Regions from separate parts of the Homo sapiens genome. Here regions 1, 3, 4 and 5 are each linked to region 2. Evidence: fine-mapped expression QTL. A gene starts in region 2. Each other region holds a variant in brackets. All regions are shown on one strand. Distances are between the middles of the regions.

Evidence for each region.
Region 1: its variant is fine-mapped to the expression of PIK3R1 in whole blood (INTERVAL, PIP above 0.99).
Region 3: its variant is fine-mapped to the expression of PIK3R1 in whole blood (TOPMed, PIP 0.99).
Region 4: its variant is fine-mapped to the expression of PIK3R1 in monocytes after LPS (Fairfax 2014, PIP 0.95).
Region 5: its variant is fine-mapped to the expression of PIK3R1 in whole blood (INTERVAL, PIP above 0.99).

The regions. Positions count from the first base shown.
Region 1 is chr5:68,253,118-68,258,117 of GRCh38, forward strand. The region is part of intron 2 of PIK3R1 (phosphoinositide-3-kinase regulatory subunit 1); the gene reads left to right. Among named protein-coding and RNA genes, the nearest start is that of PIK3R1, 40 kb to the left of the region's middle. The variant G/C (reference allele first, on the strand shown) is at 2,930.
Region 2 is chr5:68,212,895-68,218,964 of GRCh38, forward strand. It overlaps PIK3R1 (phosphoinositide-3-kinase regulatory subunit 1), which reads left to right and starts at 2,862. Exons shown (of 16, transcript NM_181523.3): 1 at 2,862-3,055. RefSeq lists silencers at 2,039-2,258, 2,479-3,578.
Region 3 is chr5:68,277,751-68,282,750 of GRCh38, forward strand. It overlaps PIK3R1 (phosphoinositide-3-kinase regulatory subunit 1), which reads left to right. Exons shown (of 16, transcript NM_181523.3): 5 at 1,852-1,983; 6 at 2,778-2,979; 7 at 3,177-3,256. Among named protein-coding and RNA genes, the nearest start is that of PIK3R1, 64 kb to the left of the region's middle. The variant C/T (reference allele first, on the strand shown) is at 2,485.
Region 4 is chr5:68,298,000-68,304,069 of GRCh38, forward strand. PIK3R1 (phosphoinositide-3-kinase regulatory subunit 1) reads left to right here. Exons shown (of 16, transcript NM_181523.3): 16 at 1-3,822. Among named protein-coding and RNA genes, the nearest start is that of PIK3R1, 85 kb to the left of the region's middle. The variant G/A (reference allele first, on the strand shown) is at 3,179.
Region 5 is chr5:68,191,066-68,197,135 of GRCh38, forward strand. LINC02219 (long intergenic non-protein coding RNA 2219) reads left to right here. Exons shown (of 3, transcript NR_105003.1): 2 at 5,305-5,424. Among named protein-coding and RNA genes, the nearest start is that of LINC02219, 4.2 kb to the left of the region's middle. RefSeq lists an enhancer at 2,494-3,033. The variant ATG/A (reference allele first, on the strand shown) is at 3,417.

The DNA of each region.
Region 1 (5,000 bases), 40 kb after region 2:
ACATACTTTTTCCTTGAATATTTTTGTTACCTTAGCTAAAGAATTAATGCATTGTGGTATTTCTGCTTGTCATAGTTTTACTTTAGAGTAGATTTCGCTTATATCTTTGTATTTATGCTTTGAGCTGTGGTTTACCAATTTCCTAGCATGTTTCATGACACTTATCCTACATTTCAGACAAGGATTTATGTGTCCCATAGGATTCAAGCTGGACTTGGAGAAAGAGCCAGCTAGCAAATGGAATTATTCTGACTTGTGAAAGGTTCCAGCCTTTTAAAACTAGGCTCTGAGAAATAAAAAAACAAATATTCTTGGGAAGAAACTGGGTTTGTGAGTACTTGGCTAGAAATTTTAGGAAAGGAAAGAACATTTCCTCTGGCCTCGGGAGCACATTCAATGTGAAATATTGCTGCCTTTAAAAGAGCCAAACTTAAATTTCTATTTGGATCATTTACTTGACTTAAAAATAAAGGGATCTATTTTTTTTTAAGGTTCAGAACCCTATTTTAAATAAAATGACATTCTAGTAAGTCAGGCAAGATGCCCCCAACATGAGCTATTAATTAAAAACAGCCGGAACTTCTGGAGGTGTTAGCAAGTATCTACTATGAGCTTGGGGATTGGCGAAATCTGGTACAAGTTAGTTCCAGCTGCGCACATTTGCCTTATTACAGTTCTTTATGATAAATTAAATGCATGCTTCATACATCCTTTGGTGTAGTCATATTCTCTCAGCACTTGACTAAGCAGGTGGAAAGCTTATTTAGTCATAGGATGACTGAAAACAATGAACTATAAACCCATGTATATCCACTCCAAGAAAAGAGCTAATAAATGTCATGTTTTTTATTTTCCCGTGGACCCCCTTTTTTTTTTTTTTTTTGTATTTTATAACCTTTCCAGAATCTTGAGTGATTTTTAAATGTTTGCCCTTTGGTCATAAATGCAGCAAGTAAATGTGAGTCTGCACACTCGAATGTTGTATAAATCAGTTGACCAGTCAGTGTTGGAGCAAACTTCTCAGGATTGCTCTGTGAACTCCCTGTTCTCTGGCAGTTGCCAAATACAAAGATAAACCAGGAGAGACTTATTCCCAAGAAAAGAATGATTCTGCATCCTTAACTTACATATAAACTGTTGAGATGTTTCATTGTTTTGTATGGTCAAGCCCCTTCTCTTGTTCTCTCTCTTCATCAATTAGTATGGAAAATTGGAAGTTTACTGAAAAGAGTTTCGAATCATGGGATTTTAGATTTGAAAAGGACCAGAGGGATCATCTACTCTTCCAACAAATAAAAAATAAAACCCCCAAAGGAATGAATGATCCATGGCTGGGACATTGGAATCTCTCTATAAAGGAGAAATCATATTAAGGTATTTTCATCTTAGGCCTCTAACCCCAAGGGTATCTTTACAAAGACTTTATTTTAGTGAAGCCTTCAATAAACAGTGACCTCATGTCAAGAATTCTAAAGAGAGGGTTATGGAATATTGGTTTGATATTAAAGTCATTGTTATCTTGGAGCTGGCCTGAATGGACTAATAAGTGGCCTGTCACCAGTTGTAACTTACTTTTACAATTTTAATGTGATTTAAGGGAAGACACTCTTGGAAATGCTTAGTTATGGTTCATACCCATAATCGTGTTTCTTTTAGGTCTTAAAATTTTATATAATACAGGGGAGTAGATTGCATCAGTACAGTCTTTTTCTTTTTTTCTTTTTTTTTTTTATGATGCAAACAAAGCAGTATCTTAAATTAAATCAAGGTTTCTTAAGGTTCCAGATTCTTATTCCTAAATTTTCCACTGAGTAACCTCCAAATTCTTCTCCTGCCTTTGTCCCTAGTTGACACAAGTCAGGCCACAATTTTTTTTCTGCAAATGGACGAGCTGCTGCTCAGAGGCTGCACTTACTGGTGAGAGATCCTTCAAGGGAAATGAATCTGGAATGGCCTGGAACATTTGTCTTTGGGTTGCTCCAGGGCTTTATTAGAGCTTCTGAGATTTCTAAGTAGGTGATGAAATTTAGCAGCATCTGATTTTCTAAAATGACCAAAGGAGAATTGTTTCAGTCCCTGATTTGCAAAGTACTCACTTTTTGGTCCTCTCAAAATTTTTGTCAGATAAAGATTTTTCCGTGCCATGGATATAAGAAATAACCCACTCTTACCGATAAAGGGAAGTTAGTGTTGTAAAGGAACAAATGGTGATTCAGGTTTGGGAGACTTTGGAGGTATTCATTCTCCACTAAGCTATATCCCAATACCATCATTATCTGGGTCAGCCTCCGATTCAGCCTCATCCTGTGCTTCAGCAGTGGGGTAAAACAAATGTCACTTGTTAGCTGCTTCTTCATGACCTTCATAGACTATGCATTAATTTGAAGCCCTGCCCCCAAAAATAGTGCTTGGGGGGGAAATGAGTTAGTGATTTTGTGAAGATAATGGGAGTTGAGGAAAACACTTAAGTTTGCTTTTCTGAGCTCTAGCTTCATTTTACTTCTCAGTCTCAGTATTTAATTGTCTCCACTGTTTTTTCTAACTTGGAAGGAAATCAGATGGCGAAAGTGAAACATACGGCTATCAATGTGAAAAAGCTGCTCCCTATAGCACTGGAATTCTCTTGTCATTAATAGCTCTTGTAGTCGACAGATTATAATATACAGAGTCATAAATGTTCTTGTTGTCATTTGGAAAATTACAAATTCCCAAAAAGTGGTGATTATTTGGGGCTTTGGGTCTGCAAGACGTTTCACATTAAAATGCTGATAATATCTTCAAAAACCACAGAGCCATGGGCCTTGCAGGCTTGGTAACTGACTGCCTTTGTGGTGTGGTTTTATTCTTTCTACTGAAGCACCTGGTTGAAAGGAGTGGGATGCTGAATTCATAGGGGCGTGTTCACAAAAATCTTTAACATCAAGTATCT[G/C]TTTATTCAAAATAGTGCATAGTTCAAAGCAACCTTGATTCCTTAAACTAGATGTTTTTCTGTTCTTTAATGAAAACAGCCTGAACGTGGTTATTAATCTGAGTCTTTCTCCATTCTGACCACCCCACTCTGTTTTTCTCTTTGAATATCAAAAAAAAAGTATAAAAACATTTTGTAATTTTTTATTTATTTATTTTTGTTGAGACGGAGTCTCGCTCTGTCGCACAGGGTGGAGTGCAATGGCGCAGTCTCGGCTCACTGCAAGCTCCACCTCTCAGGTTCACACCATTCTCCTGCCTCAGCCTTCCGAGTAGCTGGGACTACAGGTGCCCGCCACCACGCCCAGCTAATCTTTTTGTATTTTTAGTAGAGACAGGGTTTCACCGTGTTCACCAGGAGGGTCTCGATCTCCTGACCTTGTGATCCGCCCGCCTCGGCCTCCCAAAGTGCTGGGATTACAGGTGTGAGCCACCGCACCCAGCAACATTTTGTAATTTTTTAAAGGGCTACATAAATTCAAGGTATTATTGCTGTACTTCTTTTCTGTTACCTTATGAAGTTGATTGTTGTTGAAGCACCAACAGTATGCATACATGGGTATCCAGAATGACCATCTAGTCTCAGTTGTGCAAAATTCACTATGTAGTCTCATGGATTGAGAGGGGCAATTAGCAAGAGTGTGAGATAATGGAGAACAAAAAATAATGCCAAGCTGGGTTAAAAAAAAAAAAGTTTGGGAAAGAAAAAACAAGTGCTCAAGACAAGCCTCCTATTTTTCAGTTTGGCCTAGCCCTAGCCCTATTGAAGAAGGTTAGTACATTCACCTGGCCAGTTTTAGCTAACTTGGTTACCTGGCAAGTGGCGGGGATGCAGTACATTAGTACTTGTCCTGTGGTACAGAGCATGTGTCTCAGGGTGTGGCCACTCCAGGGAGAGGGAAGACGTGCTTTATGGGGCCTCCTCAGCCATCACTGTGATATGTGCCACCAGGAACCCAGGACCTTTCATGGTCCAGTCTGAGGTGGGAGCACCACAGAAGCAAGAGCTGCCTGGCCCAGCCAAGCCCAGATTACCCTAAAATCTTACTGCTTTTTTCCCTTCAGCATTTTAAATTATAGGAGCAAGTAAAAGTGTACATAACGCAAGGCAATCTGAACAGGTGGCTGATAGCTGCTCCATCCAGAGGAAGAGCCATGAAGTTCCCCCGACCCACACATTTCACCCTGTCTTGTCTACCAAAAATCACATGAAAATGCAGACATAACCATGGAGGAGTAACCCATGAACAAAGGGCTGGTAATTACAGTTTAATGCTGTTCTTTTTACCCCTTTGGCTGGCTGGCTGTGCAAAGGCAGGCCCCGGTAATTACGGTTTAATGTTGTTCTTTTTACCCCTTTGGCTGGCTGGCTGTGCAAAGGCAGGCCCCACAGGGGAGTAATGTATTTGTGACAGCCAGTTGGGGTGGGGAGAGATGGGCTGTACTACACTTTGAATTTATTATGTTCTGCTAATACTTTTACTCCTATGCTGGAAAGTTATGTTTTCCTTCCTTTGTTAGACAATTTTTGCAGAGTAGTTTAACATTTTCAAACATTTACTATATATAGCACTTTTAAAATCCAGGAACTGTCATTTCCAAAGAAGATTCCATGTCTATAATATTAATTCCCTGTCCTCTCCTCATTGCCTTTTTCAGACATCCACTGTAGATAGCCTCTGTTCCCCAGGAACTAACATTTCCAAAGGAAACTCCCTTGCCTATAATTCCCTGTTATCTTCTTGTTGCCTCTCCTGAATAATAATTTTTGATTCAGTACCTTTTAGCTATTTATAATGTTATCGTATAATCTGAGTTTGGGAACTGCTTGCCACTTCCAGTTTCTGACACCCAAAACACATTTTATGCTTAGAGAAAACAATAGCACCCTGACTTTTTAGAAGACATAGTTTTCCCTTGGGGATCCAAACTGGAAGCAGATATTTGAGCTGTGAACACATTTTTTCTTAGAAGAGTCAATTAGGAGCTGGGTTGAAGCTTCAGTCTATGCACTTAGAGTCAGGTTTTAGGAC
Region 2 (6,070 bases):
GATAGGGCTTCTCAAAGTTTAACTTGCATAGGAATCACCTGATAATCTTGTTAAAATGCAGATTTTGATTAAGTATGCCTGGGATAGGGCCTGGGATTCTGCCTTTCTAACAAGCTCTTACATAGTGCCAAAGCTGCTGGTCTATGGGCCTCACTTGAGAAGTAAAGGTCTAAGCCATTTGTATTTCACATTGGCTTTGAACCCTAAGATACATTCTTAGGTTTCAAGTCTAATGAAAGCTAATTCTAGCACTCACAATATTGATGTAGCTGGAATGATGATGCCAAATGAGAGTATCCTACCATACTTTGGGGAGAATTCTTTCTCAGCCTATAGCTACTCAGCCTTTCTTGACATTGGGGGGTCCTTGACTTCTTATGCCTTGTATGTGACACCCCTGTATCACCCCTTTCGTTGCAAATTGTACATCTTCTGCTATTTCGAGCTCCTTGCTGGTGTCACTACCTGCTGGCCAACAGTTTGGCCATTACTGATTGAACCATGGTGTTTGGGTACTTAATGTGAGTATTTTATTGCAGAGGTTTTCAATCAGTGTTTCCAGAAGCCTTAGAGTAATAGTTCTGAAACCATAGGGCATGCATCAGATCACTTGGAGAGCTTATTAAAATACAGATTGCTAGGCTCCACCCTCAGCATTCCTGATTCAGTGAGGACAATTTGAATTTCCAACAAATTCTCAGGAGATCCAGATGTTTCTAGTCCAAGGATCCAGAGGTTCTAGACAGAAGGAAGGGAGGTGGTGCAATGGGCCTCTTGGTCTTGTTACATGACTTCTTATCTTATAGTTGTATTTGGGGATTCTAGACTAGATTTTATTAAATAAAAAGATTATTTTTAAAAAAGCTTGAATACTGCTGTTTTGTTGCCTTTGCTTTTGTTTCATAGAAATCAATTGAAGGTGAAAATAAATAAAAATGCTAATACTAGTGATATGGGGAGATATCATCAGTTTAAAACAAATGAAATACTGAATTTATTTAGTATATGAAAAGAGAGCCTTATTTTCTTCCCTTGGGACACTCTTTATGATGAAAAAACGTAAAGGAAATACAATGTATGCTGGAAATAAATTACTAAAGACTGTGTCTAAATGAGGAGGTGCATTTGGGAATTTTATTGTTTTTAGGTTTGCGGGTGAACAGAATCCCACTGCAATAGTGCATAAGACTCTTTCCAGCTATCTCCAGAAGAAGGAGATAACTAGCAAGGTTTTCACTGTTAGAGTTTGTTCAGAGCGGAACCTAAAGGAAATACTGGGAAGGTCACAGCAGTTTCATCTCAGCTTATTGGATTGGATCAAAGTAATTCTACTGCAAGGCAAGGTATATCATTCCATTTACAGACAGAGAATGCATGAAGTCCTTCATTTCACACAGTAGGTGTGAAGAAGGTACCTTGGTAAATTTCCTATTTGCTTTCAGATAAAGTGTATTCTTAAACATGATGTGGGTAGCTGCCTGTTTTTGTGTCGCCTCTGCAAGAGACATCTTGGAATAATAGAAACACCAGTGTCTGAATAGCCTAAAGTGGAGCTTACTTTTCTGTTAGGTGAGTCACCTTTAAAAATGATATTTTTTAAGGATAAGCGATGAATTTTAGGACGTTCTTCCCTCTACTTCCAACGTCCACAAGAATAAACCACCAAATTCAACGTTTTACAGAGGCCAAGTGCTTAGGTTTTGTGTGTTTGTTTTTAAGAGTTTTCTTGCAAGGAAACTGGGAGGGAACTATAAAAGGGCTTTAGGCAAACAGGGTGGGCGGGTGCAGGGCTTTAAGCTGCAGAAAGGAGAATCTGGAAAGAGCTTTTAGGAAGCAGATTCTCACATGTTTTAATATGAAAGAGTGGCACACGTGGTGCTGGCATTCCATCTTACCATCAGTGGAAGGTTTGAACCAACATCAAATTTTTCTGGAGCAACTTAGGTAATTATTACTTGAAGAATATGCATTTCAAAACTAACACCTTTAAGAGACAATGTAATTCACCTGCGCTTCCCCGCCCCCCCCGCCCGCGCCAACCCCACCCCCCGCCAACCCCGCCCCCGACTCCGCGAACGCCGAGGGGCCCGTGGTCTGCCTGAGTGACCTCCATTTGCTCTGTCATCTCAGGACTAGAAGCCATCAGCCAGCGTACGCCCTCAGAAAACTCTCTTCCCTTCTCGCGGGTCCGCCTGGCTCCCGGAGGCGGCGGTGCCAGGCTGCCGGAGTTAGCCAGCGGCAGGCTGCGGGCGCCCGTCCCTCCGGTTCACCCTTTCACCCCTCCTTCACCCCCGGAGCGCCAGGCGGGTGCCGCGGGTTTTCCGCCCACTCGGAAGGCAGTGCTGGCGAGACCAGGAATTGCAGGGCCTCTCCGCTTTGGCGAGCTCTGGAATCCGAGTCCTCCCCACCCCAGCCACTCTGCTGGGGCGCTAGGGGCTCGAAAAAGCCTGGGGTTGGCTGAAAGACACTCGGATTAGAGACGCAGCCAGCCTCCAGGGAGGTCTGAACTTGTCTTCGACCTCCCCGAACCCCTCCGCCTCTGCGCTGGGAGACGCCCAGCAGCCGGGCGGGCCCGGGACGTGTAGAGCCAGAGCACTCCGCAGCGGAGGCAGCGCGCGGCACGGCCGCCCGGGGCATCCCCGCGGCTGGGGGGCGGAAGGCGAGGGCGGTGGCAGGAAGGGTCCGCCAGGCCTGAGCTCGCTCCCCCACTGCCAGCCGCCGGCTCGGAGGCCCGAGCCGTGCGGACGGAAAGGGGCGGAGCCGCGGGCTCTGGTTGGTGTGGGCTCGGGGGCGGGGCGCGCGGGGCCGGGCCGGAGGCGGGGCTAGCGCCGGGCGCTGGAGCTGCGGGCGCACGGAGAGGAGTCGCCAGCAGCTGGAGCGGAGTTGGAGGAAGCAGCGGCAGCGGCGAGGGCGGCAGGCTAGCTGTCGGAGACGGCAAGCACGGATCGGGCACGGCCGGCGGGTCGCAGCCGGGCTGGAGGCCGGTCGGAACCGAGCGGGCAGGAGGCCACCGCTGCAGCGCGGGCCCCGCAGAGGAAGGAAGCCGGCGGGCGGGGTAGGTAGGCAGCAGCAGCCCCGGGTGTGTGTGCTCGGGCGGGGGAGGCGGTGCATGTGTGCACGGCTGCCGCGACTCTCTTCCTGTCACTGGCAGCGGCTTCTCCTTCTGCAGAGCCCCGCCGGGGGGAAGCGGGCTGGCCACCGGCCCTCCCCGCCTCCGGCATCTCCTGGCCGCCGGGCAGCACTACCCCCGCGCGCGGCCGGCGTCCTGTGAGATCCCCGCCATCCTGACTCCCGTTTCCCCCGTCCTCCTGCGAGCTGGTCCTGCACGCCGCCGGTCGCATTTGCCCCCGGAGTTGCCGACGAGCTCGGGCTTCCTCCCACCCTCCGTCACCGCACACTTCGGAGGGTCCCCGCTGTCGCCTTGCTGCAGTTTTCCGGGGCCCCTCACCGGAGGAGAGCGCCCTGGCCGCTGCCTTCGTGTTGCGGGAAGGAGCGCTCCCTTCCCCCGTGGCCCTCCAGCTGCAGCCAGGGTCGCTGCCCGGGCCCTTCCCGGGGCGGGCGAGGCGGCGGTGGTCCCCGGAGCTCGTCCCCTAACCCCCGCCTTCCGAAGTTTGCCGCCCTCCTCTTCCGGGGTGGGGGAAGTGCGCCTCGGGGCGGTTGGTCGCTGGGGCCCTAACTCAGCGTTTATTGCCAGCCAAGCTTGGGCAGGTTGTTGGAGGCATATTTAGTGGGGTCTTGGAACCGCCCGGAAATCCAGCTTTTGGAACGTGGGGCGAGGCGGGAGGGACCTGCCCAGCAATATGGAGCCGGCTGGGGAGAGCCAGGGAGCCTGCAACCCGGAGCTAAAATATCGTGGGCAATTCTCTGGAAACCACAGCTCTAACCTAAGCTCAGAAACTGCCCCTCAGATCACAAGACAAAGAGAACAGAAAACCTCTGGCCAGGCACTCCTGTACAGAAATACACTTTGATAACCAGAATTGGAGCCTGAAATGCAAGGATATATGCAGAATGGCTGTTACGTGTTGAATGCAGAATGTGTGTCAACTGGGTTTGGGGGAATTCTTCTGTTTCCCGGGGCGCTATTAATATCGGAAAGGTCTCACTTCCACCGTTAATCCCTTGAGCTGCAGCGCTGTTGGTGTCCGAGTGTGAGTCTGCTCTTTATTTGGGGGCTTCATGATTTTAGGTTTTTTTTCTTTTTTCTCTTCTTTTCCTCTTTGTCAGCCAGTGCGAAGTACCAATGGATAAAGCAGTTCCGGGTTTTGAATGCAACATAAGATTGTCATTTTGGTGTGATGAGGCTCAAGTTTTAGTAATCAGGAGGGATATTCACAGAGCTTATTGGTCAAGGCTTGATGTGGAGTTATATTTTAATGCTTCATTAGTTCTGTTACGTTTTGGCAACCTTAAAGATGGTTAGATATTAGCTAGGAAGGGTTGGAGTGGGCAGACAGGTTCATTTCTTAAGCAGGTTATTAGAATATTAGATTGTCACAGTTTGAATTACTAGGAATTTGGTGACTTCTGCACAGAAGGCCACAAGTATCTTTTAACATTGAAAAAGGAAGAAAAAGCAACTCACTAGCTATACAACTTTTTGACAGATTACACTGTTCTTGAAAAACCGTTTAGAAGAAAGCAGATAAGAGTTTTCTTAGGTGCAAAAGTTGATTAAACTTTAGGAAGCAAGTGTTTTTGACCAGTATAAAGAAAATAAGAGTAATGTGTGGGGGTGTGTGTGTGTGTGTGTGTGTGTGCGCGCGCGTGCCTGCGGCTAAAGTTTGGGAAGAAATGTTGGTTCAGAGTTAAGGTTTAAGTTGGAAAGGCCAGTGGAGGAGGCTCCCTGCCTTGCAGAACTGCTGGGTATTGTCACTGCTTGCCTCTTCAGCTTTTATATGCAGGTAGGTACTAGATAATCATATTACTTTTTCCAGAGAAGTGGATAGATTTTTATGATTGGGAGAAAGTTTAATGTATCTGATACTGGCTTGCAAAGTGTAATGTGCATTTACTTTTAACTTTCATCTTGACTTGGGACCTGTTCTTAGTTGCATAACAGAACTCTGCAGTGTACACACTGCTATTTGATGTTTTATCTGCTTTTTAAAAATAATGATATCAGTGAGTCTCTTCCTATCCATGATGCTGTATAGTCAGTGTAAAAAGCATTTTGTTTCCCATTTATTGAATGTTTTTTCTTTAGCGATTTCTTGAGTTTAAATATACTAAGCGCAGGAAATCCTCACAGAATAAAGTTGGTTCTGGGAAACAGAAGTGGAACAATAAGTTATAGGAATACATATTTTGATTATAGACAGTGATGATGGTGGTATGCGTTTATCTTTTGGTAATGTCAGTTTCACCTAACGTGATTTTTGAAGGACTTTGAATTGTAAATGCAAACCTACTCAAACTAACCCAAATTTTGTACTGTTAAAAGTTTTGGCCATTTCTTTACATTTTTCCATGACTGTCATATAATTTTTAGGTTGATATGTTGATTGAACATATCAACCTAAATTGATATGTTCAATCAACATATTGGTCGTTCAGGGGAGTATTGTAAAAAGGCATCTACTCTGAAAGATTGTTCACATGATCATTAAAATAGGAACAATTCTAGTTCAGCTTTTATTGTGTTTGCATTTTGTGATTTGCAAAATACATGTTTTATTGAATAAAGAGATGGTGAATGAGCAGGCTGAAAAAAAATTGATTTTTATGCTCAAGTAGAATATAGCCAGTTGAGATAATGTTTGTGTTGGGTTTTGGAATTCTCTCACGTCAAGGCATACACAATGCAAAAGATATTGTATGTTTCATATGAGCTCCTCCAGCTCTCCCTCTTGCAGGGCACAGGGTTTGCAAGTGAAGGCAAGAGAATGAAGCATTTTAATGAAGCCCTGGAAGACTAGAAAGTTAGTTATCAATGGAAGGAATTATCAAGTTAGTTTTTACTTTAGAAAGCAGAATATAAATTATATCACAGCTTTTTATCAAAACCTAGGTTTTAATTAATTTTCAAAGTATTCATATCATTTACTGCATTTTCCCATGCCTCCTTTAC
Region 3 (5,000 bases), 64 kb after region 2:
CCGAGTTATATGAGGTCTCGATAATATTTTGTACATTTCTAACTGCATTAGAATTCAGACCCCCATCACCTTGATTCAGAGAACTAAATCTGGTAGTTTTACTTCTAGCAGCACTCCCTTCCAATTTATTCTTAACACTGTCATTAGTAAAGCTGTTACAAACGTAGTATCTTGCCCATCAGCCCACCTTTGCTCCACTGAGTACACAAGTCCCCAGATTACTTTCCTCAAGTTATCCTTCGCATTGCTAGTGTACATCCTTCAGCAGCAGCCAAAGTCCTCTCCTTTTCTAGAGGCCCATGGTCACCCCTGCCCCCAGATCTTTGTTTCTAGCATCCCTTTCTTCTGCTGGGCATTGTGTCTTTTTCCAACCCAAGTACTTAGAGTGCCATGCGTAGTGAGTGCCTGGAGGGTGGTATTGATTAGTTTTACCCCCATTATTGGATTGCTTGACCTGTTTCCCAGCTGAGGGATTTACTGGACAGGTATGCTCATCTTATTTTCTGAGATTGTCTGATATCCACAGGTTAGATTAGTAATACTCAGACAGAATTAGGGAGAAACATTCTAAAAATGTTCAAATTATTTTCATGGATATTCTTGAGATTGGTTGCTAAAAGTCTGTAGTATCTTACTGTTGAATCCATCACTCTGTTGGTGACATTTACATGAATTCTGAGACATATCAACTCAAGTCTTAGGAAATCTGGGAATATGCATTTTTAAATTTTTCCTGTTGAGGTTTTAGGAAACATTTACTATATGACTAACCATTCCTAGTTAGAACCCTTTTCAGTCAGGGCAGAACCACCCTCAGAGGATGTTAGGAAATGTTTGGGTTCTGTATTCGTTTGCTCAGGCAGTTATAACAAGTTACCACAGACTGCGTGGCTTAAAACGCAGAAACTTGGCCAGGCACAGTGGCTCACACCTGTAATCCCAGCACTTTGGGAGGCTGAGGCGGGTGGATCACGAGGTCAGGAGTTTGAGACCAGCCTGACCAACATGATGAAACCCTGTCTCTACTAAAAATACAAAAATTAGCCAGGCGTGGTGGTACACACCTGTAATCCCACCTACTCAGGAGGCTGAGGCAGGAGAATCGCTTGAACCCGGGAGGTGAAGGTTGCAGTGAGCCGAGATCACACCAGAGATGCACTCCAGCCTTGGCTACAGAGTGAGACTCCATCTCAAAAAGCAGAAACTTACTTCTCGTGGTTCTGGAGGCTAGAAGTCCGAGAAAAAAGCATGTTTGGTTTCCCCTGAGGCTTCTGTCCTTGGCTTGTAGATGGTCACCTGCTCACTGCATCCTCACAGCGTTTCTCCTCTGTGCCTGTGCATCCCTAGTGTGTCTCTCTCTGTGTCCTCATTTCCCCTCCTAGAAGGATATCAGTTACATTGGATTAGAGTCCACTCTAATGGCCTCATTTTAACTTACATGCAGTCACTTTCTGAGGCATTAGGAGTTTGGGCTTAGAGGGGTGGGACAGAGGATGGGGTAGGTAACCACTGAAGATGCAGCCCAATTCAGCCCATAACAAAGGCATTATTTTTTGTTGCCCCAAAGTGTGGAGGTCTGCTACTGGCATCATGGGCAGGGGGTCAGGCATCCTAAGTGCTTGCAATATGTCAGAGAGACCTCCACAGGAAAAATTGTTCTACCCCAAATGCCCGGAGCAACCCCTACAAGAAGTACGGCTAACGAATACTTTGTGTCTTGTATTTATCCTCATATTGCTTCCTTATTTTTTTTTTTTTTTGTCACATGTGAGTCAAATTGTTCAGAAAATTAGCCCAACTGATGTATTCTATAAAATAAATGTCTGAAATATTTCTTAAATTGTTTCCTAGATACACCCTCCGTGGACTTGGAAATGATCGATGTGCACGTTTTGGCTGACGCTTTCAAACGCTATCTCCTGGACTTACCAAATCCTGTCATTCCAGCAGCCGTTTACAGTGAAATGATTTCTTTAGCTCCAGGTTTGTTTTTTCTCTTCTGGGAACCTCATTGAACATACATGGAGATGTAGAGGTGCTTGTATATGTCTTGCATATATAGAAATAGTGGTTAGAAAATAGTAGTAATAACCTGTCCCTCCCCCAACAATACCACCTCAAATTTCCTCCTCCACCCAAGCATCCAAGAGAAGACCCAGATTCTCATTTGCTTGGGAAGCCCGTCTGCATGTCAGAATCAGAAATGGCTCATTGTTAACCTATTGGTCTTAACAAAGTTTGTACGTCAATGAAGGACACGGTCTTCCAAGTACTAGTGTCAGATTCAAGGAACTGGGACTAGAATCCAGTGATGGGGGATGTTCTTGTCATCTTTCCTGAGTGGCCATAACAGAATGTGTTGAGGGAAGATGGCTCTCAGTTTTAGGAGATAAGGTTCAGTTAAGTGCTTTGGGGACAGGAAACTGGTTCGTAACCTTCAAAGTTAAAACCTGTGATACTTATCTGATGCTCCTCTGAGTTAGC[C/T]AATCACACTTGAAGCTGCTCAATACTGGGTAAGTTGCTGCCAGCACACCCTGAACAGCTTGTGGTTTCTTTACACACTGAGCTTTTTGCATTTCCATTTGACCTGAGATTTCTACTTTCTCATAATGCGTTTTCTAATGAGAAGGACAAATGTACTGTGTGCTTCTCCCAACAACTTTTTAAATGACTCCTATAGCTTGAAGAAAGAGCAGAACTTTTCTAGGTGTTTATTCACTGATACCTGGAAGTAGTCGCTTACTCATTTCTCTTTTTTTTTTTTTTTAAACTTGTAGAAGTACAAAGCTCCGAAGAATATATTCAGCTATTGAAGAAGCTTATTAGGTCGCCTAGCATACCTCATCAGTATTGGCTTACGCTTCAGTATTTGTTAAAACATTTCTTCAAGCTCTCTCAAACCTCCAGCAAAAATCTGTTGAATGCAAGAGTACTCTCTGAAATTTTCAGCCCTATGCTTTTCAGATTCTCAGCAGCCAGGTAAGTGAAAGGAGACAAACATGTATTTTGGGGTGATGAGGGTAGTCCTAAATGGATTGGTCATGAAAATGTATTCTGAATATACTACTCCAGAGATGCATGTGCAGATGCTATCACACACATTCACTTGAGTGTATATAAATGAAAATGAGTTTGCTTTTAGGGAAAAGGTTTCTAATAAACTCTCTTTCTTACAGCTCTGATAATACTGAAAACCTCATAAAAGTTATAGAAATTTTAATCTCAACTGAATGGAATGAACGACAGCCTGCACCAGGTAATGCTTTTTGAGCATTTAACATTCTCTCATTGTTCATTTTTTAGAGCCTTAAAAAATGATGGCTATAAACCTCCTTTGAAGTAACACAGCTTCTTATGGAATTACAGTTGGTAGTAATATGTTACCTTGTGATTTAAAGAAAAAATAGCTGAGTGGTAGTGTATATGTTAATTATTATCCGAGTTTCAACATTTGTGGATTTTAAATTATCTTGGTTTTAGGTGAGAGTTTGGAGAGTTCCCTGTACCCTTCAACATTTATGCTTCAGGTTGTTGAAGAGATTTATGGAGTTCATTTTAGTTGTTGACATTTTTGTTTTTCTTTCTAATACTTACAAAGTAGGGGATTTATAATTACTATATAATTTAAAGTATTTTAGAATGTGTTTTTTGGAAGTGGGTATGCTGAGAAATGCCTGTCAAAATAAACATTTTCAATAATGCAAGCAGTATGAAACCAGTGTTCCCTGCAGCAAGTTCGAGCAAGCCAGACACTTCTTTGAAAGCAGGCTGCTGTTCAGTTAGCCATTTAACAAAGCAGGAAATGTAGACCATGTTAGCAATGCATTTAATTTAAACTGATGTATTTTTCTTCTACCGTGGAAAGTCTAAACAACCTCATTTTGCTATATACCAGTTAAAAGTTAGCTAATCGACACTGGTCATTTAGAATAGTAATTAGGGTACTATACGTGTGAAGTTTCAGGACCAGTAAAAGGTGTTGCTTGTAGTCTTAATTTATGCCTGGAACTTAAAATGAAACTCCATGAATATATTTATTATAGGTAATATATGCAGATTACCATATTTATCTCTGTATGAGCAGGCATGGGGACTCAGTTTCATCTTCATGCAATGGAGAGTTAAGTTGTGCTTTTTCTTAATTGGGTATTGCACAGCCAGGCTTGGTTACTTGCATCTGGATGGGGCAGCCTAAGAGAGGCCAGGGCCTAGACTCAAAACCCACCTGCAGCAGGTAGGATAGAGGATAGGGTAGGTAAACACTGAAGATGCGGGTATTGGGAAAGGTTTATGTGGACAGGCCCAAAATGTACCAAAGGTGAGAGAGAGGTATCCGGTATAGTAGATAAGGCAAGCATGGGATGTTCCAAATCACAGCAAGCAGAATGTTTTAACAGGGGTGCCCAGAATTCTAGGTAAACTACGTCAAAGAAGACTGTCAACAGGTAGGGACTAGGACTTCAGTCCAGGGGTTGGCCAAAAGGCTTCATCTCGTGTGAGTACACAGGTCACTGTGAATGGATTTGGGAGCTCTGTGCTGGTGTTCAGAGGCTGCCTTTGGACTTAGTGGAAAAGAATTGGGGTAGGGGTGTGGCACATGGCACTTAAGTTGAGGTTTATGTTAGAGACTAGGTAGAGCTGGACCCTGCTCTCAGTGAAGGGCTAGTGGGTAGTCCTGATCTTTTCAGTGGCCACTCCTCTAGAGAGAGGAGACACATGGAAGCCAAAGCCAGACAGGGTTTGACAGATACCCACAAATGAATTTATCACATGGAATTTTGGAGAATTTCTACTACACAAGGTATAGCAGAATCAGTGGTAGAGTTTGATTAGCCTGACTGGTGTAAACTAGTTAAACGCCTTTGTTAGTTTCATCCTAATTCCACCAAAGTAAAAACGGGTATCTGCACTATTTTCATAATGCCACCCGGAAAGCTGTTTGATATGTCAAAGGACCCTACATTTCTCTGCTGAGCAATTGGTGCGCCTGTTTCAAAGGA
Region 4 (6,070 bases), 85 kb after region 2:
GAGGCAGAAGAACCCTGGCCTGAGAAGGTTTGGTCCAGCCTGGTTTAGCCTGGATGTTGCTGTGCACGGTGGACCCAGACACATCGCACTGTGGATTATTTCATTTTGTAACAAATGAACGATATGTAGCAGAAAGGCACGTCCACTCACAAGGGACGCTTTGGGAGAATGTCAGTTCATGTATGTTCAGAAGAAATTCTGTCATAGAAAGTGCCAGAAAGTGTTTAACTTGTCAAAAAACAAAAACCCAGCAACAGAAAAATGGAGTTTGGAAAACAGGACTTAAAATGACATTCAGTATATAAAATATGTACATAATATTGGATGACTAACTATCAAATAGATGGATTTGTATCAATACCAAATAGCTTCTGTTTTGTTTTGCTGAAGGCTAAATTCACAGCGCTATGCAATTCTTAATTTTCATTAAGTTGTTATTTCAGTTTTAAATGTACCTTCAGAATAAGCTTCCCCACCCCAGTTTTTGTTGCTTGAAAATATTGTTGTCCCGGATTTTTGTTAATATTCATTTTTGTTATCCTTTTTTAAAAGTAAATGTACAGGATGCCAGTAAAAAAAAAAAATGGCTTCAGAATTAAAACTATGAAATATTTTACAGTTTTTCTTGTACAGAGTACTTGGCTGTTAGCCCAAGGTTAAAAAGTTCATAACAGATTTTTTTTGGACTGTTTTGTTGGGCAGTGCCTGATAAGCTTCAAAGCTGCTTTATTCAATAAAAAAAAGAAATGAAAAAGATATATGAATATGACAAAGTATTGCTGAGTCCAACAATGTTGTTTTAAGACTCTTAAAATACGGTACCTGGCAATGTTTATTTCATAAAGAATTGTGAACTTCTTGAATCTAGGGAGGGGGAATGTAGTGAAGGGATGTATCAAGTGGGGTGGTGGGAGGGGGAGGCAAGGTTATATGCACTTTCTCATGATTTACAGAGAAGTGAATAACTGCAAAGTGAAGTTGCTTCTTCTACTTCAGTCTTCTCTCACTTTGATTTGCTAGTTGTTATCAATTAATGACAATTACAAACCTACTGTATCTCTAATACAGTGTGACTGGTCAGGTATTTCAGTTCTTAGGAAGGAAGTGCCAAGTTTGTTTTTGGGTTCCTGGAACAGCGCTCACCTTTGTTTAGAACACTGGTTTAAAGGGATAATCATCTCTGTCACATTAGACTATCCATCATGACCAGCAAATACTCATTTTAGGAAAAAAAAAAGCATGATCTGAAAAATACTTTTGGTGGTATGTTGGTTACCCTCCTAGCTTTCCATTTGGTTTAGAACATAAAGCAAATAGACACAGTCATACTGTCACTGCTCTGGACTGTGTGGAGCTCGCTAAAGTCATGGTCATTGCAGGAATCCAAGTGGCAGTCCTTCTCATTCATTCTAATCATTGTATGTGCTTCACTACGGGGGGGAGAAGGAAACGTTAGCATCATGTTTCCCATTTAGGGCAGGAGTGAGAGGTCTCTCTTCCTGATTTAGATATGCAAAAGCTGGTATGTTCAGTAGGAACTGTACATGTGTTGGGAGGCATAAAGACTAATTAGCAACCATAATATGGTCACTACCCTAATAGACTAAATGAAATCTTGCAATTTCAAATTACTCTTTCTCCATATTAGATTTACCCACAGCTATATTTCTGTTTAAGTACTAGGGTGAGGGTTTTCTGTTACTTTGTTTTTTAATGTTGTTCCTTTTGAAAGAATCAGTCTTGCAGCTGAGTGAAAAATCTGTGGAATGTATTATTTGTCCTCTTTACATGAAACTACTCATACTTAAGCAAAAGTCAGTCTTATAGCAAGACTGTTAGCCCTCAAACTTGACTCTACTGATCTGACCATTTCCCTCTCATCGCCAGACAACTGACGATTTCCCTGGTTTTAGTCTGCGTCTCTGCTTTAAAGTTATTGTGATATCCTTCTAGATCATACACAAGTCTAACAGTTAATTAGTTAACAGTTTTTAAACTAGGTTTGTGGGTATTTTTTTGGTAGCACATGTATGCTATTACATACAAATTTTTATTTCTAAAATATAAGATCTGAGATTGAATATTTTCATTAAAAGCTACAGTTTTGTGAATCTTTGTGCTTCAACATTCTTTGCAAGATGATACGGTATTTAGGCATTTGCCTTATTTTTGCATCTCACAAACATAAGTGCAATAGATCTTTTCATTGAACAGCAAAGTAGGATTCATCATTCCATATGACTTGAGTTACACCAGACCTGTTCTGCCCAATGCCTTTTTGATTACAGTGTAGCTTGCCCACCGCATTTGTCGTTTTAGATACTTTGCTAGCCGGCCACTTTGGATTTCATCAGACAGTCCTAACAATATTGTCTGAACGGCTGAATATGAATAGATACAGCAGAGGCACTCCTGATATATGATTTTTATCCATGCGTCAGTTTTTCCCACCCAGTGTAGCATCCTAAAGATAAAGCCAGAAGCTAAGCTGCAGTGAGGCTGTGATTGGGCGTAGAAGTGGGAGCATTGGGACCTCACATTACACACACGAGAGATCATAACCATGTGAAAAGGCAAAAAGCATGTGTTTGCAACATCTGATAACTTCATGGCCTTTGATAAATGTATATATGTATATGTGCATGGACTGTGTTTCCAGTACACCTTTCAGCCAAAACAGATCCACAGTAGTTGTTGAGTTCAAGTACATAAAGTACATAACAAGCGAACGTCTAGTACAATTCTTACTTATGTGTATGGGATTTTTCCCTTTGAGGTTGCTTTGTTTTGTCTTACAAAGGTGAAAATTGTTTGTAAGTGAAGTGAGAAGTTCATATTTCTTTGGCTTTTTTGTGTTTTTAAAAGTTACTCCTTTTAGGGAGCTGGTCTGATGACTTGCTTAGCTTGGAAATCCTTGTTTTCAGTGTGTCGAGTCAAAATGTGTTTATGTGAGCTGTCACTGTGGGGAACCAATTGCTTTGTCATATAGCTGGTTATGAACTAGTAACATGTTTGGGAAGTCCTACTGATGTTCCTTTGGAAGAAAAAATCTGCTGGTTTTAACAACTGTGCTTTTGCTATGTATGGTATCCAAGTTAGTTGAAACGCAGACACTGAGATCTGTTTGAGTTTAGGGTCATTTTTAGAAAGGGGCAGTTTAAAGCACAATGTCTCACAT[G/A]GGACAAAGTTCCAAAATGCCAAATTCTTATTTTTTAAAAAGCTAGTTCTATAAAATACTGGTATTATGGGTGGGGAGGAAATAGAATTGAGTCAATTGGAAAGACTATCCAACTTAACATGAAACTTGTCACCATGAGATAGCATTAGCTGCCCAGGATGCTGCTATATATATATATATATATATATATGTGTGTGTGTGTGTGTGTGTGTGTGTATATATATATATATATATATATATATATATATATATATATGTGTGTGTATATATATATATATGTGTATATATATATGTATATACATATATGTATATATATGCACATATATATATGTATTTAAAAAAATCAAAACAAAAAAAAACTCATTTATACCTGTGTATTTTTTAAAGCTACAATCTGTTCAATGTTTTTAAAAATCTGTTTATATGACATTGTTAAAATAAAGTTGGTCTTTTGACGAGAGGGAGGATGTCACGGTCAGTTGTAACTTTGCCTTCACAAGGCAACTGGGGTGGGGGGTGGGGGTAGTGTGCCTCCTTGACATTTCGTTCAAGTTATAGATTCAATGGAGCTATGTCTTGTTTTAAGTTGCTTTAATGCATTGTATTAGATCTTCAAACAGAATAAAGGTTGTTTTGAAACTGAAGTTTTGGGTTGAAATTTCACTTATCACCTAAGAAATCTTTCTAAAACAGCTACCTTTTGGCTTATAAATGTTGCTGCTATTTCTGTTGTCTCCCACCCACTCCCTTTTGATTGTTATCACAGTATCTCATTTTTGTAAAGTTGAGAAGGACATTGAGTGGTCACATGTAAGTAATACATATGAGCTGTCTTTCATAATTTCACTGTTTTTTGAGACGGAGTCGGAGTCTCACTCTGTTGCCCAGGCTGGAGTGCAGTGGCGCTATCTCGGCTCACTGCAAGCTCCACCTCCTGGGTTTACGCCATTCTCCTGCCTCAGCCTCCCGAGCAGCTGGGTCTACAGGCGCCCGCCACCATGTCCGGCTAATTTTTTGTATTTTTAGTAGAGACGGGGTTTCACCGTGTTAGCCAGGATGGTCTCGATCTCCTGACCTCGTGATCCACTCGCCTCGGCCTCTCAAAGTGCTGGGATTACAGGCGTGAGCCACCGCGCCCGGCCAATTTCACCATCTTAAATGAGGAAATACACCTAGGTAATGTCCCTTCAAGGCACGTTCTCGCTATAGGAAAACTAGAATGCCCATCATCCTTCAATTCTCGCCTCCTCCGCATTCATACCCAAACCTTGAGAATCATCCTCTAAGAACGAAGTGTCCAGTTTTGTCTCTGTTGTGCAGTCTGCATATTTTGAACACTCACAGTGCAGGGATGACATGGGACTGTAGACAGGGAGCTAAGTTACACCTCAAATGCAGATTTTACATTGTATCACCTAGTCAAGATACACAAGTCTTACTGTAGGATAACTTTCCCATTTGTTTTGATTGCTAAGTGGACTTAAGGCAATACCACTTTGCATGTATATGGTGTTTACATGTAGACACAGTGAGGGTCTAGACCTGAAAGACATAGTCTAGTAGTAGAGGGGAGAGGGACGTACAAATAATTACTCTCAGGGCAACAATGACTAATATTTTTTGAGTATGGCAGTAGCTCCCAGACTGATGTTCTGCTTTCCCCCTGCTCTGTTTGGTATCACAGAGAACTATATTCGCTGGAGCGCTTGTCCTGGGGCTTCTAGGTGTCTCTTCCCTGGCTCTAGCTCCTGCCAGATAGACCCTCATTTTCAGGTCTGAGCAAACCCCCTCTGCTCTAGCTCTCAGGAGAAGGCTCTGGAAACATTACCTACTCCCATTTTTTACTCCAGCCCAAGAAGTGGTTGCAGCTTTATGCTGTTGCTAAACGTCTGGTTTCCCTCACCACCCCCATTTGGTTTCTGAACCCTTCCCTCACTCAAGTAATTATCATTCAATTATTCCAGTAAGAGCTAGGGTAATTCCCCCCCCACATACACACACTGGTCTCTGACATATCAAGTGATTATTATCTGTTAAACTCTTTGTTTTACTCTTTCCACAATTACCTGGGTAAGATGATTATATTCCCATTCTTTAGATGAGAAAACAAGCATAGATGTGAGATGACTTGCTCAAGATCATGCAGCATCTGAGAACAGAGTTGAACGCATAGGCTTCTCAAGCCAGAGCTCTTTGCCCCTATGCTGTAATGTAATAGACTTTCAATGGAAAATGCACAAGAGAATGCAAAAAAAAAAAAAAAAAAAGGCTCACTGGTAACTTTTTGCTGGGGAGGTAACCATGTGGCTTTCAATTAGTAGACAGTGCACAGGTGGTCAATGATGAATCACAGGAAATAGCCTGGGCTTGCTTTAAACCAGTGGTTCCCAAAGTGTGGTTCCCAGACTAACAGCATTCACATCAGCATCACTTGGAAACCTGTTAGAAGTACAAATTCACAGGCCCTACCCCTGACCTACTAACTCTGACACTGGAGCCCAGCAATCTGTTTCAACAAGCTGAGTGATTTTAATGTATACTAAAGTTTGAAGATCACGACTTTAGATCACCTGCTTACTGAAATAGTACTTCTAGCATTTTAACTAAAAACCATTACCATTAATGAGTGATATGTTACTTTCTAATTTATTTTCATAATGTAGGCCATAGGAAAAAGAAAACAGATTGATTTGCAGTTTAGGAGGCCCAGTCTGCTCTTTTTATCTGTCTTTAACCAGCTGTGGGAAGTGGGCCAATTCAAGGCACCTTCCAGGCCTCCAACTCCTTATCTGTGAGATAAAGGTATGGGCCTCTGGGACTCCTTCTAGAGCATATGCTGTGATTAAGTGAGCTGAATGAAGATTCCCAGTCCCCCAATTCTCCATTTACAAC
Region 5 (6,070 bases), 22 kb before region 2:
TTGACTTCTTTTTCTTTCTTTCTTCCTTTCTTTCTTTCTTTCCTTCTTTCTTTTTTTTTTTTTTTTTTTTTTTTTTTTGTAGTTTAAGATCATTTTTTTGAACAACAAGAGACAGGGAGAGGGAGGGGGCAACTACATCCCCCAAGCCCTACCATGGGGAATGGACCTCTCCCTGCCTCCTGCCCCCTAAGCAGCTCCCCTTGTACTATGGGAGGGAGACTTTGTGCAAACTCAGCCCTGAGGGGGTCACAGTGACTCTTAAGGTTGGTCAGGGCTGTAATTACAACTTAGCAAACAGAGAAACCAAAATAAAGAGGCAATTTTAGCTGCTTTCTCAGGTAGGCCCTCAAATTGTCACCTGTTAGAGTGCATTTTCTGCAGTGACTAGAGCCTGCATCTTTAGACAAGCGCTCTGTCCATAGAGTCATGAAGCTACTATTCTTGGGAAATGGATCATGCTCCACCCTTTAATTGAACAGAGTACTTGAATTCTTATAGTATTGAAAATCTCTATGAATTTAACATGGGAGGAGCATGTGCCACACAATCTGGCTGGAGGGGTGGGAGGCAGGAGTCTATGCTTATCTTCCTGTATTTTTCCTCTGATCACCAGACCAGAATGTGTTTCACTGTGGTTAGAGTAAATAAAGTCTCAGGATAACTTTTTTTTTTCAAACAAAAACAAAAAATTCAGTTGTTCTGAAAAGCACTGATAATGTGAAATAAGACAACTGTAGCTGTAATTTAAAGGGTCATCTTTGTTTTATTTTTCTTAAATTGAATATTGTTTTTTCAGAATACTTATGTTCCATGAATATATTTCTAGTTTGAAGAAACTTAAGCTGCTTTTCAAGGTTATACTTAAAAAAAAAGTCATTTAAAACATTGCATGATCCAGTTTACGAGGTTCTTAGGTCAATTACACCATTGTTATCTTTCTCTTCTTGAGCATAGTCTATAACCATTGGGGAAAATAATTAAATATAAATGTTTCTGTATTAACTTTGATTCTGGATGACTTATCTTTTTTTCTTTCTTTTTTTTTTTTTTTTTGAGACAGGGTCTCACTCTGTTGCCCAGGCTGGAGTGCAGTGGCGTGATCTAAGCTCACTGCAACCTCTGTCTCCCAGGTTTAAGCGATTCTCCTGCCTCAGCCTCCTAAGTAGCTGGGATTACAAGACGCCTGTCACCACACCTGGCTAATTTTTGTATTTTTAGTAGAGATGGGGTTTCACCGTGTCGGCCAGGCTGGTCTTGAATTCCTGACCTCAAGTGATCCGCCCTCTTTGACCTCCCAAAGTGCTGGTATTACAGGCATGAGTCACCGCGCAGGGCCTGAATGAGTTATCTTAAGAATAATATCACTGAAGATACCATACTGGTTAACAATTACTACATAATAAATTACTCCCCCAAACCAGTAGCTTAAAACCTTCATTTCATTTTGTTCACGGTTTTCTGGGAATTCAGGAAGTACTCAGTCCAGGCAGCTCTCTGTTGGGTTCTCTCATGCAGTTGCAGTCAGATGTTGACTCTGGCTCCAGTGACATAAGGATCAACTGTCATAGGTCCAGCAGTTGAGGCCCAGCTCTGCCATAGGTCCAGCAGTTGACATGTCTGCAGTGAGCTTGGCAGAGGCTAATAAGCGTATCTACACCAGCATGGCTGTCTCAGGGTAATCAGACTTTTTACATGGCGGAAGACTTTCTCCAGAAAGGCTCAAGAGAATCAGACAAGGGCTTTTTCCAGCCAGCCTCAGACATCACACAGCATCACTACAAGGTTCAACTGTTTCCTATTGAGTCACTAAGATTGGACCTCTCTAGATGGGAGGAGTATCAAATAACTTGCAGATACATTTTTAAACTGCCATACATGTGCTTTTGTGTTTTTCTTCGCAAACAGCTCAGCATGTATTCTCTTTAGCTAAAGACCCCAGTAGTTTTTGAGTTCATTTTGTGCTTCCAGAACCTAGCACAGGGTATGTGTTACAGCAAATGCAGCCAAATATTTGTTAAACTGAACCAAAGGCTGACAAGCCATGAACTCCTGCCATCCACATGAAGGAGGGATTTTGTGGCTGCCAAATTTTTCTTTTGATAAGTTAGATGGCTTATCATGCTGATAATACAACTATATATATAGATAATAGAAAACCTTGGTTTTTTTCCCAAGGTAAAGGAGTCTCAGAAATCCTGTAGTCCCACCCTTTACCTTGTACCTCCCAGCCCTCCTCACCCCACCCCAGTTTCATAGCTGAAGCCCAGAGAAGTTAAGTGACCTAACCAAGTGATAAAGGTATGGTCTCTAGTTGTATTATGTTGGTGCAAAGTATTTGCGGTTTTTGCTATCAAAAGCAATTCCAGGCATTGTTTCTTGTCCATAACAAAATATTGTTTTCTCGGTTACTGTTTGGGGTTATGACTTTATCAAAAATTGCAGGGACATTGTGGGCGTTAGGTCATTTTTATACATGAGGGTGAGGAAGTGATACTTCTGCCAACCTGTTGATCTCAGCAAGAATTCTTTTCCTCCCTGACCTTTCTATTTATTCCATCAGGCAGATAAAGAAAAGACCCAGAAAGATCTCACCAGGAGGCTGTGGGACTCCAAGTTGCTCTCTTCAGATATAGGTCAAAAAAACTAACTTCCTGACCCTTTCTTCATGCCTTGCAATAAGATCTTGTAGTTTCTATGTCTGGGGCAGTGCTGAGTCTAGAAGGCTTCCTGTGATTTACAAAAAGCCTGTGAGGAAATGGAGATGTCCCTGAGCCTGCCTAAACCTGCAACAGTGATCCATTGTATTTCCAGGGGGCAACCCATCATACTTTGATGTAAGACGTCGTTCCAGCCCTTTGGGGTCAGGAATGCAAAATGCCAAGTCATCTATTTTGCATCACAATGATGCAGTTTTGTCAGGAAGTATAGTATTTTTAAAGTGATCACCCAGTTGATTAACAAAAGAAAAGAAATCACACCTTCTCCTTTGAAGTTTGCCAAGCTTCCCTTAACTAAAGAAGGCTCTTTCCTTAGCTTGTATCAGGACCATATTCAAGACTTTTTCAATTTGGAAAATTTCATATTTATTAGGAAAGGTGAATAATAGAGCTAGTATATGGAACTAATTTCTTAGGTCAGTCAACATTTCTTTAAGTCAATTCATTGAATTGATGTTTGTGTGAATGTCTGGCTTATAGTGAGCACTCAGTACATGTTAATTCCGCTTCTTTTCCTAACACCATTGTATGGGGAATGACTCAGGTTCACAATGTTTAGTATTTCTCCAAAATACTCTGAGTCTTCATTACCAAAAAAAAAAGTTCGATAACATTTGACCTCCTGTATTTACTAAGGCAGAAAAACCTTCTAAGCTCCTTGTATTGGTCAGTGTTCTCCAGAGAAACAGAACCAATAGG[ATG/A]TGTGTGTGTGTGTGTGTGTGTGTGTGTGTGGTGTGTGGTGTGAGTGTAGGGGGCAAGAGAGTTATTTTAAGGAATTGACTCGTGTGATTATGAAAGCTGGCACATTACAAGAGCTGCAGTGAGCAAGCTGGAGATCCAGGATACCTGATAGTATAGTTCCAGTCTGAGTCCAAAGCCTGAGAACCAGAAGAGCTGATGGTGTGTCTAGTCTAAATGCTGGCAGGCTGAAGACCCAGAAAGAGCCAATGTTTCTGTTAGAACCTGAATGCAGTGGGGGAAAAAACTAATGTTCTAACTCTAGGTAGTCAGCCAGAAGGAAATTCCCTCTTACACATGGTAGCACCAGCCTTTTTGCTGTATTCAGCCTTCAACTGACTGGATGAGTCCCATCCACGTTAAGGAGGGCAATCTACTTTACTGAGTCAACTGATTCAAATGTTAATCTTGTCCAAAAGAACCCTCATAGAAATACCCAGAATAATCTTTGGCCAAATACCTGGGCATCCCATGGTCAGTTAAGTCAACATATAAAGCTAACTATCACACTCCTTTTCCGTTGAGCACTAGTCAAATTGAAATTTCATAGAATTTGTGTGTTTGTAATAGAAATGATTTTCTGGTTAACCCTGTTTTACCAAATATGTACGGTGTACCCAGTTCTCCTTAGGATTTACTCTTTGCTCAGAGCATTTCATTTTGGGGCATGCAAATAAATGGGATGCCCCCCTTATCCCTGCCCCATTATCCCTTATCCCTGTCCCTGTATGGAATACAATGTACACTCATAACATGAAACCAAAGGGAGGATGTTCTATGTAACATTACTGATTCTGTGACCATCCTAGGAAGGAATGCTGGTGCGAGCTCTCCATCTTCACTTCATGAATTAATAGACTTGTCATCGGAGGTATTAATAGGGCTTGGAGTTACAGCAAAGCTTCACAGACATTCTCAGACATCAATCACATTTTGGTGTTTGCAGCTCGAAGGCAAATCATCTGCACAATTATGATTTATATGAAATTCAGGAATCATAAATGTGCTTCACTTTGGTCTTATTCAGAAACCAGTAGCTTTTACTCATGGATGCTAGCAAGTTTGGCTTGCATGGTGGAGGCTGTGTGCTGTTGAGGTTAATAGCATGCAATTACCCGGGCTCCAACTGCAGCTCTACCAACACAGAAGCAAAAGTGGAAAACATGGCAGAGTTCTTAGAGTAGAAATAAAACTGTAAAAACAATGGTTGAAGAAGGATCTTTGTGCTTGTTTTAGATAGAATTCATTAAATTTTTAACTGCTATGCCAAAGAGACTATATCCATATAATCTTTAGACATGCAGTGAGGTAGTTACTGTTATTATCCCCATGCTAGAATTTGAAAACAGAAACACAGAGAACATAAGTAACTTGTCCTAAGGTCACTTTGATTTGAAAGTAGGGAGTGTGGTTCCAAGACTAACTACCAAACTAGGTGTTTCTTTGCTGGGTGAGTCCTCTCTCTGTCACCCAAACAAACACACAGCCTGGCCCAGTGATCCCATAGAGGTGCTGCCTTGCACTGCCAAGTCCTATGGGAATACTGGGCAAAGGTTCTTTTCTGCTTTCAGACCATACCCCTTGCGTCTCAGGTAGAATACTACAGGGGATAAATGGAAGACCAGATCCAGTTGGGTCAGAGGCCTCCCCTCCAGATCTTCCGCTCTCCAGAGCCTTTTTCCACCCTCTCCCCTAACCATCAACCACATGTCCCTTAGAGTTTCGTACTGTCCATTCCGCTCAAGACTTGGGTTTCCCTTTAATATTTTTATTGGTTTTGTAATAAACATCTTGGTGCTGATTAGTTGTTTTTTTTTTTTTTTTAACCGAGTTTCACTCTTTCGCCCAGGCTGGAGTAAAGTGGCATGATCTCGGCTCACTGCAGCCTCCGCCCCCGCCAGGTTCAAGTGATTCTCCTGCCTCAGCCTCCCGAGTAGCTGGGATTACAGGCGCAGGCCACCATGCCCAGGTAATTTTTGTATTTTTAGGAGAGAGGGGGGTTTCTCCATGTTTACCAGGCTGGTCCCGAACTCCTGACCTCAGGTGATACACCCGCCTTGGCCTCCCAAAGTGCTGTGATTACAGGCATGAGCTACCACGCCTGGCCGGTGCTGAATTTTAATTCCTCAACCAGCTGGGCTACCCTCGGTAATACCCTCAGTAATCATTACCCTCCCCATCACGAACTGCTCACTTGATCACTCAACACATAGAGAGTCTCCTTCATTCCCAATGTAGAATAGAGAGCAGAGATAACAGTGGAGAGTAAAGGCAACATGGTCCCTGCCCTCACGGAGTTTATACTCTAGTGGGGAAGACAAACATTATTCAAAGAGTTACATATAAATATAAAACTATACTGTGACAAATGCCACAAGGAAAAGGTGCAGAGTTTGATGACCCCAGGACCTGGAATTTACCTAGTCAGAGAGATCAAGGAAGGCTTCCCTAAGGAAGTGGTGCAGAGCTGAGATCGGAAGAAGCAGGGATGTTCTCCACAGAAAGAACATGCTCAGAAGCCCAGTCAGCAGCAGGAAGGAGTGTGGTGATTTTGAGGAACCGAAAGAAGACCAGCATGGCTGGAGAACAGAGGATGGGGGTGTGATATGTGACGA